3 linked regions of the Homo sapiens genome follow. The protein of the gene in region 1 purifies or fractionates together with the protein of each later gene. This does not show direct contact. Each region holds a gene or a part of one and is shown in the gene's direction. Other genes may lie near its edges. The genes, in order: KCND2, NCS1 and GNB4.

What was found.
Region 2: the proteins of KCND2 (region 1) and NCS1 purify together in Homo sapiens (affinity purification with western blotting, with the first as the bait; one study listed by BioGRID). This does not show direct contact.
Region 3: the proteins of KCND2 (region 1) and GNB4 purify together in Homo sapiens (affinity purification with mass spectrometry; one large-scale study listed by BioGRID and IntAct). This does not show direct contact.

Annotation. Positions count from the first base shown.
Region 1 is NC_000007.14:120,734,549-120,738,204, forward strand, and holds part of KCND2 (A-type voltage-gated potassium channel KCND2), read left to right. Parts: intron 1-3,656. UniProt on the Homo sapiens protein: Voltage-gated potassium channel that mediates transmembrane potassium transport in excitable membranes, primarily in the brain. Mediates the major part of the dendritic A-type current I(SA) in brain neurons.
Region 2 is NC_000009.12:130,227,844-130,231,499, forward strand, and holds part of NCS1 (neuronal calcium sensor 1), read left to right. Parts: intron 1-3,656. UniProt on the Homo sapiens protein: Neuronal calcium sensor, regulator of G protein-coupled receptor phosphorylation in a calcium dependent manner. Directly regulates GRK1 (RHOK), but not GRK2 to GRK5. Can substitute for calmodulin. Stimulates PI4KB kinase activity.
Region 3 is NC_000003.12:179,444,862-179,448,517, reverse strand, and holds part of GNB4 (guanine nucleotide-binding protein subunit beta-4), read left to right. Parts: intron 1-3,656. UniProt on the Homo sapiens protein: Guanine nucleotide-binding proteins (G proteins) are involved as a modulator or transducer in various transmembrane signaling systems.

The DNA of each region.
Region 1 (3,656 bases):
TCTCAGAAAAGCTATGTAAATGTTAGCATACTTCCCTTCCCCAATCTTTGTCAAAATAGTCACCTTGAGAGGCAGGGCCCTTGTTGCTTAGAAATAATCTTGGAAATCTCTTTTGTAGTTTCCTTTGGACTTATGGCACTGTATTTCCAGTGTTCTTCATGGTCATTATATCTTTGTCCTTTAAGGATAGTTTCATTTTTTAAAAAATATCCAAAACCATTCATAATCATGACTAAAGTAGATGCACAACCTAGGTGATGTGTTATAACTACAAAATATCATGAGAGACTTTGATATAGTTATTCACTGGCTTTGTAGGTAATTCCAGAACGGGATCTTAAGCACGCATATGAACAATGTCAGCCTCTTAAGTAAAGTATACAATCTCATAAAGTAAGTCTTTGGAAAGTTCTAGTTAATCACTGTGGCCACACAGCATATTTGTCCAGAGAACTAATTTATGCCCACTGTCAAAGATCTTCTTCCTTTAGCAAAGAATCACTTTTTCAAGCTCTGTAGTTACTTGCTTTATGGAACCCTTCATTTTTGGACAAATGCCTAGCCTTTAATTATTACAGAGAAGAGTTAGAAATAGTCCAGTCAACATGGATATAGAGAACTGATCATCTAACGAATAGGGAGGAGTAGAAAAAGGCACCCTCTGGACAGTTGTAGTCTTATGTAGGGAATACATACCCTTGGCAAGCAGAGGTAAAGGGATTTCAGCCACAACTGACCCCACCACCAGGGACCTTCAAACATCACACTCATGACGCTGCCCATACAGTACAGTCCCTCTACTGAGTACAAACACACATTGTCTAAAATAACAGGATCCTACCAAAAGTTTAACTTTCAACCACCCATCTATCTCCATTCTAGACATTTCTCCTTTAGTATAAGAGCCAACTGTATGAAAACTATAGAAAGCACAAATCTAAATTTCCGATAAACCAATTTCCCAAACACTTGTATTTCTTCAGAGTTTGTCATCTGCAACAAAGAAATCAATAAAGAAAACCTTAGAATATTTTAGAAGCCTTTTGGTCTACTAAATATTAAATACTAAAATACATTTAGAAATCAAAAGTAAATAATGTGACATTCTAAAAGTACACTAATTGAAAAGTATATTTTGTGAATGCTTTTTGGTATCTTTAAATATTTGCTATATTTTTGGTTTCTGCCATAATGCAATGAATTTTACAGAGTTTTACTACTGAAAAAATTGGATTAATAAAGTAAAATATAATAACCAAGTATAATATGTCCAGTATGTAGACTGTGACCAATAAACTGAACATAATCTTCTAAGAAAGAACAGTGGATATGAACTAAATAAGTTACCAGGGGATATTTTCTATTTTCCTTCCCAAGAGATTAGGGGGAAAAAAAAGCAGAACAAACGCCCATTAGGCTAAGACAGTTTATTTATCTGGGACTGGGCTATGTGCCAAATATTAAAGTTATGCAAAAATGACCAGCTAATTCAGTCAAGCAAGCATTCAATTCAGTAAAAACGTCAGTCCAACTGACTAATAAAAGTAATATTACAAAATGGTTTGTTAGACCATATTTTTGGTGTTTAATTCAATTGCCACACTAAGACCAAGCAAAAGCATGAAATAGACACAATATTAATTTTAGAAAATTCCTATCATCACTATCAGAAATACTTTCCTTCTTCTAGTTTCTTCCATTTGCAAGTACTCTTCCTACTTTTGCTGTCCACTCCTGCCATATACAGGGAATACATGGTTTACCCCATTTCTATCAATCATTGATAAAGTCTTAACTAAATACTGACATGCTGGTGGGTATAGGCCTAAACTGTGACACCTCTCCTCTACTCCCACCATTGGTAATTATATTTTAATAGATTTATTGATTCTCGTAGTTATACTATAAGTATTTACTGAGTAGAATGTATTAGCCAAAATAAAGCTAGATTAATGCAATGACAAGTGGCAGGTTGACATTTTGAAGCAGCTCTTTTAATATATGGATCACATCACCTAATCATCTGCATACTCACAGGCTAACCTGTGAGTAATTATCATATAATAATCATAGTAGTAATTATAGTTATAATTTAATAATACTAATTGCAACAACAAAAACCCTCACTAGTTTCTAGAATGTCCCAGGTGTTTTATATCTGTTTTTTTTGTAATATTCACAATCAACTTGCAAAGGAAGTATACTATTTCCATTTTACAGATAACTTGCTCATGCTCACAAACCTAGTGATTAAAGTCCAAGGCAAAAAAATTCTAGTATTATTTGAACTATGAATATTTTAGGATATTCCTATAGATAATTCTAAATGCAGTGAGAAGTTTAGAATCAATGAGCCAATGTATAGTGTAATATTTTTAAATTTCACATTGACTTAGAAAGACACTACCCATATGTAGTCTGCCATTTATCACACCCTGCTAGGGTGGTTTTCAAACTTTAGATTCATTAGAATCATCTGGAAAGCTTACACACACACACACACACACACACACACACACACACACACAAACAAAAAAAAAAAAAACAAAACAAAAAACAGATTGTTGAGCCCTACTCCCAAATCATCAGACTCTGTAGTTTTGGGTTAGAACCTGAAATTTTGCTAATAAATTCCCAGGTGATGCTGATATTGCTGTTTGGAAGACCACATTTTGAGAACCACTGCCTAGTACATTCAGCAATGTCAAAATCAAAGATTTTTATTTAAGTAGAATAATGAAAAAGCAAGAAATAACTACTTGCTAGAACCTGAGAATGATCTCTTAGGTTATCTACTGTTAAAAACAAAATTACCCAGCTCCTAATTCCACCTAAGAATTTGGTCTTGGATGCTCTCCTATATCCTCTTTCAGTTCTCACCGCTTCCACCATGGAATCCTCTTGTAGACCTCTCATTGCTTAGCCTCTTCCACTAACCCAAATCCCAGCCCTTTTTCTGCTTAGCCCTGCCATCTCCAGGATTAACCAAGTTCTGGACCTAGGAATGTTGCACTGTCTGCCACTGACTTCTTTCTTCTCTTTTTATTGTAGTTTGGTACTAACTTGTCTCATTTCTAGCACAGCTATTTTTCTTAGCAAGTGAAAAGATTCCAATAAATGCCTTAAACTTCTAAAAGGTGATAAAGTTTACTATGTTACCTCAAACTGAGGCATTTTACTAACCCTTAAATGAAAGAAACAACTGTAAGCAAAATTTCCAGAATGCATGTTACAGGGAGTGTGGAGGCAGGCATTTGAGGAATAAGGAATTACCAAAGAGAAACACCTTCATTACCTCACTTTTAAGGCTACCTAGGATACCTTTATTTTTCAAAAGATTTTGTGATTTGGTAACAAGATGGCCCAATAACTTCCTTTAATCTACCTCATACCTCATCTAGAAATGACTGACCATTTAAAGAAATCAATGTCTCAGTGGTGTTTGGCTTATAGATCCTTCTCAGATTGACTTCCACCCTCTGTTCCACAACATAAACTATAAAGTTTATGTCACTTGGCGTAATTAAAAAACAATCTACTTGATAAAACCCATTGTGTTCCACTGCATTCTAGCCTGTGAGTACTTCACAATACAAGATTTCTATGTCAAATTAGTTTGAGGAAATTTGCAGATTATATATCCCTGTTCTTCTCAC
Region 2 (3,656 bases), on another chromosome or scaffold:
TCAATAGGGTTTGCCCAGGTCTATCCTGGATTTAGCAGTGCAAGTTCCCTGTTCTAGGAAACTTCTCAGTCCCGGGAAAATTGGGATACTTGTCAGCCATTGGCCAGGGCTGTGGTCTCATCTGAAGGTTTGGCTGGTGATGACCTGCTTCCAAGCTCACTCATGTGGTTTGGCAGCCTTGTTCCCTTGCCATGTAGACACCTGCACAGGGCTGCCTCACAATATGGCTGCCGGCTTCCCTCAGAGCTTTCCAAGAGAGAAGGAGAGAAAGAGAGCCAGGATGAAAGCCAGTGTCTTTTTATAGCATAATCTTGGAAGTGATATCCATCACTTTTTCTTTTTCTTTCTTTTTTTTTTCTGCGACTGGGTCTCACTCTGTTACCCAGCCACCAGGTCATGGCTCACTGCAGCCTCAACCTCCCAGACTCAGACGAGCCTCCCACCTCAGCCCTCAGCTTTCCAAGTAGCTGGGACTACAGACATTTGCCACCATATCTGGCTAATTTAAAAAAAAAAGTGTTTTTTTTGTTTGTTTGTTTTGTTTTGTTTTTTTTCTGTAGTGTAGAGATAGAGTCTCACTATGTTGCCCAGGCTGGTCTGGAACTCTTGACCTCAAGTGATCCTCCTACCTCGGCCTCCCAAAGTGCTGAGATTACAGGTGTGAGCCACTGCACCCAGCCATAGATTGGTTTTTGAATGCTAAGTCACCTTGCATTCTTAGAATAAACTCCACTTTGCTGTGATGTGTTATTTTTTTATGTATCATAAAATTTGATTTGTTGGCATTTTGTTTAGGAGGTCTACACTGTTTTTTTCTTTCTTTCTTTCTTTTTTTTTTTTTGAGACAGGGTCTCACTCCATCACCTAGGCTGGAGTGCAGTGACATGATTTCAGCTCACTGCAGCCTCTGCCTCCTGGGTTCAAACAATTCTCCTGCCTCAGCTTCCCGAGTAGCTGGGACTATAGGCACCTGCCACCATGGCGCCTGGCTAATTTTTCCATTTTTAGTAAAGATGGGGTTTCACCATCTTGGCTAGGCTGGTCTCGAACTCCTGACCTCAGGTGATCCACCCACCTCAGCCTCCCAAAGTGCTGGAACTGCAGGCGTGAGCCACCATGCCTGGCCAGGCCTACACTGTTTTGAAGCGTCTGTTATTATTATTATTATTTTTCACAAGAAATCCTTTTTCATTGAAGAGACATTGAAAATATGTTTAATGAGAAAACCTCAATTAAAAAGTTTATTTTAAAAAAAACCCCTTATGTATGACTCAGATATAATCACAGTGAACATTTTAGTGTCCAGAGTGATTTTAAAAGAATTGAACACTTACAAAACTTAACACTCAGTAAACTGAGTCACACAGAAATTATATAATTAAAACCAATTTATAAAGGAACTATCACTGTTATTAATATTTCTTTTTTTTTTTTTTTCCAAGATGGAGTCTCCCAGGCTGGAGTGCAGTGGCGTGATCTTAGCTCACTGCAACCTCTGCCTCCTGGGTTCAGACAATTCTCATGCCTCAGCCTCCCAAGTAGCTGGGATTACAGGTGCTTGCCACCACGCCCGGCTAATTTTTGTACTTTTAGTAGAGATGGGGTTTCAGCATGTTGGACAGGCTGGTCTCGAACTCCTGACCTTGTGATCCACCCACCTCAGCCTCTCAAAGTGCTGGGATTACAGGTGTGGGCCATCGCGCCTGGCCAATATTTCCATCATAGAAATGTTTGACGTGTACCTTGACATGTCCCATGGTGAATGCTGATCCGTTGTCTAATTTTTCACAGTCCTCTTTTGCAAATCACCATGTCATATTATTTCCATGACAAGCTTGTCAAAGTGACAAGAGCCCTCGCATGATATGATCCCCCTTTCTATTAGCTCTGCTGGGAAATGGCCTTCTTTCTTCTATAGGGCTGTTCCTTGTGCCTACGCGGTAGTGATTATATCCAATTTGTGTTCTATCATTTTAATGATTTATTTGCCTCCTCAGGTTCCTGATAGCTCATAATTCCTAGATCACTTGCAGTGATGTAAGTCATTGACTTATTCAGAAACTGAGATGAGGCTTATTTTCCACATCATTAAATGTTGAGCCATCATTTTTCATAGCTGCATAATGCTCCATCACATGGCTGGGCCATAATTTAACCAGTTCCACAGTGTTGGACACTCAGGTTGTTGGGAATTTGGGGAAGGGATTAAAAAGTTATCTATTATGGGCCAGGCGCACTGGCTCATGCCAGTAACCCCAGCACTTTGGGAGGCTGAGGCAAGTGGATCACTTGAGGTTAGGAGTTCAAGACCAGCCTGGGCAACATGGTGAAACCCCGTCTCTACAAAAAATACAAAAATCAGCCAGGTGTGGTGGCGGGCACCTGTAATCCCAGCTATTTGGGAGGCCGAGGCAGGAGAATTGCTTGAACCTGGGAGGCGGAGGTTGCAGTGAGCCAAAACCACTCCACTGCACTCCAGCCTGGGTGACAGAGTGAGACTCTGTCTGAAAAACAAAACAAAACAAATTATCTGTTATGGAAACATTCATACACAGTGGCAGAGAGAATAGTGTAATGCTGAGTGGGCGCCTGTGGTCACTCACACCTATCATCCCAGTGCTTTGGGAGGCCGAAGTGGGAGGACTGCTTTAGGCCAGAAGTTTGAGTCCAGCCTAGGCAACATAGAGAGACTCTGTCTCTACAAAAAATATGAAAATTAGCCAGGTGTGGTGGCACATGCCTGTAGTCCCAGCTACTCAGGAAGCTGAGGCAGGAGGATCCCTTGAGCCCAGGAGTTAAAGGCTACAGTGAACTAGGATTGTACCACTACACTCCTGCCTAGGTGACAGTGTAAGACTCTGTCTCTTTAAAAAAAAAAAAAAGTGTAATGTTTTGTACTCATCACTCAGCTTCCGAATCCCCAGTTCCCTGCCAATCTTGTACCATCTGTGCCCTCCCCCCCCACCCCCACTCTTGTGATTTTGAAGCAAATTCAAGACATCATCATACTTAATCCATTTCAAAATGTATTTCTAAAAGATAAAGATTCTTTGAAAAATTCATAAAGCAAAAGCAATCAATAATTCCTTAATATCCTCTGATCTCTAGTTGCTATTCTAGTTTCCTGTTATCTTACTCTTTTTTTTTTAACTTTGTTTACTGAAATCAGAATCAGAATAAAGTCTACCCATTGTAATAGGTTGATAGGTCTCTTAAATTTATTTAGACCATGTGCAGTGGCTGACGCCTGTAATCCCAGCACTTTGGGAGGTCGAGCTGTGTGGATCACTTGAGCCAAAGAGTTCAAGACCAGCCTGGGCAACATGGTGAAACCCTGTCTCTACCAAAAATACAAAAATTAGCTGGGTGTGGTGGCGGGTGCCTGTAGTCCCACCTACTTAGGGGTGCTGAGGCAGGAGGATTGCTTGAACCAGGGAGGGTGAGGCTGCAGTAAGCTGAGATTGCACCACCGCACTCCAGCCTGGGTGATAAAGTGAGATTTTATCTCAAAAAAAAAAAACTTTAATTTTGTTTATTTTTTATGTATTTATTTTTTTGAGGTGGAGTCTCACTCTTTTTGCCCAGGCTGGAGTGCAATGACGTGATCTTGGCTCACTGCAACCTCTGCCTCCTGGATTCAAGCGATTCTCCTGCCT
Region 3 (3,656 bases), on another chromosome or scaffold:
ATTTATGTGAATAATATAAACTCCCAGAAGAAAAAAAAAAAAACCAAGTAAGTTTTGAGCACAGGATTAAAGATTAAAGAACTGAAAAAATAATCTTGAACTCTGTGTAGTAGGCTATTATTTGTATGGTAGAGGTGTAGCAATTCTGAAACTATTTTGTGTGCATTATAGGATTGAGCAAATGAGTAAATTCATTGATATTTTGGGAACTAGGGTTTCCAACGTGGAAGAAGAGAAATGAAAACATGAAACAGGCCAGGCGCGGTGGCTCACACCTGTAATCCCAGCACTGGGAGAAATGAAAAGTTAAAAATAAAACTTCAAACAATAACAATGCAGCTTTGCTTCAAAAAGAAAATCTTTGAAGGGACTCCATGTAGGCTGTCTCTACTCCTTATCTGCCATCTTCTTCTGAACCCGCTTCAGAGACACATTATCCCTCCTACTCCATGAAACAATTCTTCTCCAGGTCACCAGGGATGTCAGTCTTGCCAAACTGGATCTTCAGCCACATTTGACACAGGCAACAGATAACTCCTTCCCTATCAAAATGTCGTTTCCCCTTGGCTTCTGGGACACCGCTCTTTCTGATTTTCATCCTGCCTCATTGGCTACAGTTTCTCATTCTTCTCCATCTCAGTCAATGGTACCACCATCCACCAGTTGCTGAGGCTAAAAATTCTAATTCCCCATTTCACTCATTCTAAATCTATTCCTTCAACAGCAAGTATTATGGGCTCTACCTTCAAAATCACTGCAGATTGGACCATCTTTTTTAAAAAGTTAATTTGACCATTCCTATCACCTGCACTGCCACCACCACCACCCTGGTGTCAAACTGTATTCTTCCCTGGCCTGGATGACTGCAGGAGCCCCCCAACTGGTTTGTCAGCTTCCACTCTCTGTCTCCCACCAGCCAGCATGAACTTTAAAAGAGGTAAATCAAAGCAGGTTATATCTCAGTCGTCAGAACCCATTATTGTTAGATAAAATAAAAACGTTTTAGCCAGGCGTGGTGGTGCATATCTGTGGTCTCAGCTACATGGGAGTCTGAGGCGGGAGGATTGCTTGAGTCCAGGAGGTCAAAGTTGCAGTGAGCCATGTTTGTGCCTGGGCAATAGAGTGAGACCCCATCTGAAAAAAAATCAGGATTTTTTTTTTTTTTTTTTTTAATACCATGATCAAGAGACGGTGACTGGGCTCTGGCACACCCTTCTAGTCTCATCTGCTGCTCTCTGCCCTGCTCACTCTCTTCCAGCCTCGCCATCGTCACTGCTGTAGGTCCAGCATGTCAGGTTAGTTTCTGCCTGGGCCTTTGCTTGCTGTTCTGCCTGTAATGCTTTCTCCCAATGAAGACATAGCTCATCCTCTCATTTCATTCAGTCCTTACTTAATTTATTTGAAAATAGCCTTCCTCGTCACCCTCTAACCTCTTGAAGTTCTTGCAGTTTTTTTCTTGCATACGACTTATCTGTACTTAAAATTATGTTATTGATGTGCTGTATTATTTATCTCCTAGACAGATACAGAACAAAGCACTGTGGCAATAGGAAGTTTTGTTTTGTTTACTACCGAATCTCTAGAGCCTAGAATATGTTTGGCACATGGTCGGGACTCAGATATTTGTTGAATGAAGGAATGAATGCATGAATTAATATTTGTTGTATCTTAGCTAATGCCGTTTCAAATGGAGAAGACGGTTTCCAGAGAATCTTACAGCGTTAGTGCTACGTAAGGTGTTTGGTGATGCTGCTACAGCTTCTCTGAAAGCTAACAAGTTACCAACTTTGAGTGTTTTCACGTTATCACCTTTCTTTTGTATGCCCTCTGGTGGAGTGATGATAATAAGCGGCAAGTGAGTAGAATAGGTCAAGAAGAAACTAAAATACAAGAACCTAGATCACAAACTGGATAATTAACTTAAAAAAAATAGATTTGAAAATTTTAACTTTAGTTAAGCCTCCTGAATAATTACAATACGATTAGAAAGAATGAAAAGAAAATGAGCCACAGATTTGAAGAGAGATCTGGCTTAGGATGAAAAAATAACCTATTGAGCACACCCAAAATGTTTGGATCTCTTAAAAGAATTCCTGCTTAAATATACTTCTGTCCCTTGAAGTATTTTAATATTTTTCCATCTTTAGTTCAAAGACCTCTTTCTCTCAACTGTAGTAATAATTTCAGTGAACCTTTATTGACTACCATGTGTCGGTTAACGTACACAAGTGGTGAAGCCAGTGTTCAAACTCCAGCAGTGGAGGACCAGAGTCAGTGCCCTAAATCTTCATGCTTCACTACCACCTTTGTGCCAAGGTCGTGTGGATGGTACAGGGACCGGAGAATTTCCTTTGGAGCAATAGTTATGGACAGAAAAATGCTTGGTAAGTTCACAGTGTGTGTTCCTCAGTTCCATTTTCCAGTATGTTTATAGAGAGCCTTTTCTTCCAGAATTGCTGAAAGATGTGTTATTTTATCTTTTTTGAAATAGAAATCACATGAAATGTTTCTACACTCAGATGCTACTGACTTGCTGAAATAATATAAAGTTTCTCTTAGTGTCTATATTTCATATTTATGGCAGTAACAGCTTAATTGTTCCTCCACTTTTGGCTTTAGCAGGGTTTGTTCATATACTGTGTAGTTATTACAAAAGAAATGTAGTATACCTTACTGGGTAAGGACAAACTCCCACTGAGATGCTTGTCTTACTTGCAGTAGGAACCCTCTAAAAAAGAATTCGCTCAGAAGATATCATTATTCTTAGTATCTCTGCAAGTCAGAGCGCTGTCTTCTTAATAGCTGCATAATATTTCACTGTATGAATGCATCATAACTACTCTCCTATTTATATTTTTAATTTGTTGTCATATATACAATTGGTTAATGAATATCCTTAAACATTAATTCTTACCTATTATGCAAAAGTGTTGGCCAGTTGCAGTGGCTCATGCCTGTAATCCCAGTACTTTGGGAGGCTGAGGCAGGCAGATTGCTTGAGCCTAGGAGTTTAAGACCAGCCTGGGCAACATGGTGAAACCCCATCTCTACAAAAAAATACAAAAATTAGCCAAGCGTGGTGGTGTACGCCTGTAGTTCCAGCTACTCGGAAGGCTAGGGTAGGAAGATTGATTGAGCGCAAGAGGCAGAGGTTGCAGTGAACTATGATCATGCCACTGCACTCCAGCCTGGGTGACAGAGGAGACCCTGTCTTAAAAAAAGAAAGAAAGGAAAAAAAAGTATAAAGTACTCTTTTTAGAGGCCTTACTGTTTCTACTCTCTTACTTTTAGCTTGTCATGAATTTTCAGCTGTGGAGAAATTAATGAAATCTACTTTCTCTATGGAACAGATTCTATCAATTTCTCTATAGCTGAAGAAAGAGAGAATACTACTTTGGGAGGGACAAGATGAGGACAATGGCCTCTATGCTCAAAGAACTAATAATTGCTAGGCTCTTATATAGGATTTTTAATTTTTTTTTTTAATGGCAACACTTAGCAATGGCTTGACTCATTTTTTTTCTCCTTATTTTTATATTCAGTTTTTCAACTAAACACCTTTACCCAGAGATTGTTTAAAATATGAAAATTTGTCATTAACTACTTGGTAAGTGAAATTAAAAACCCAGTAAGGCAGCTTAAGCTGAATGAGGTTT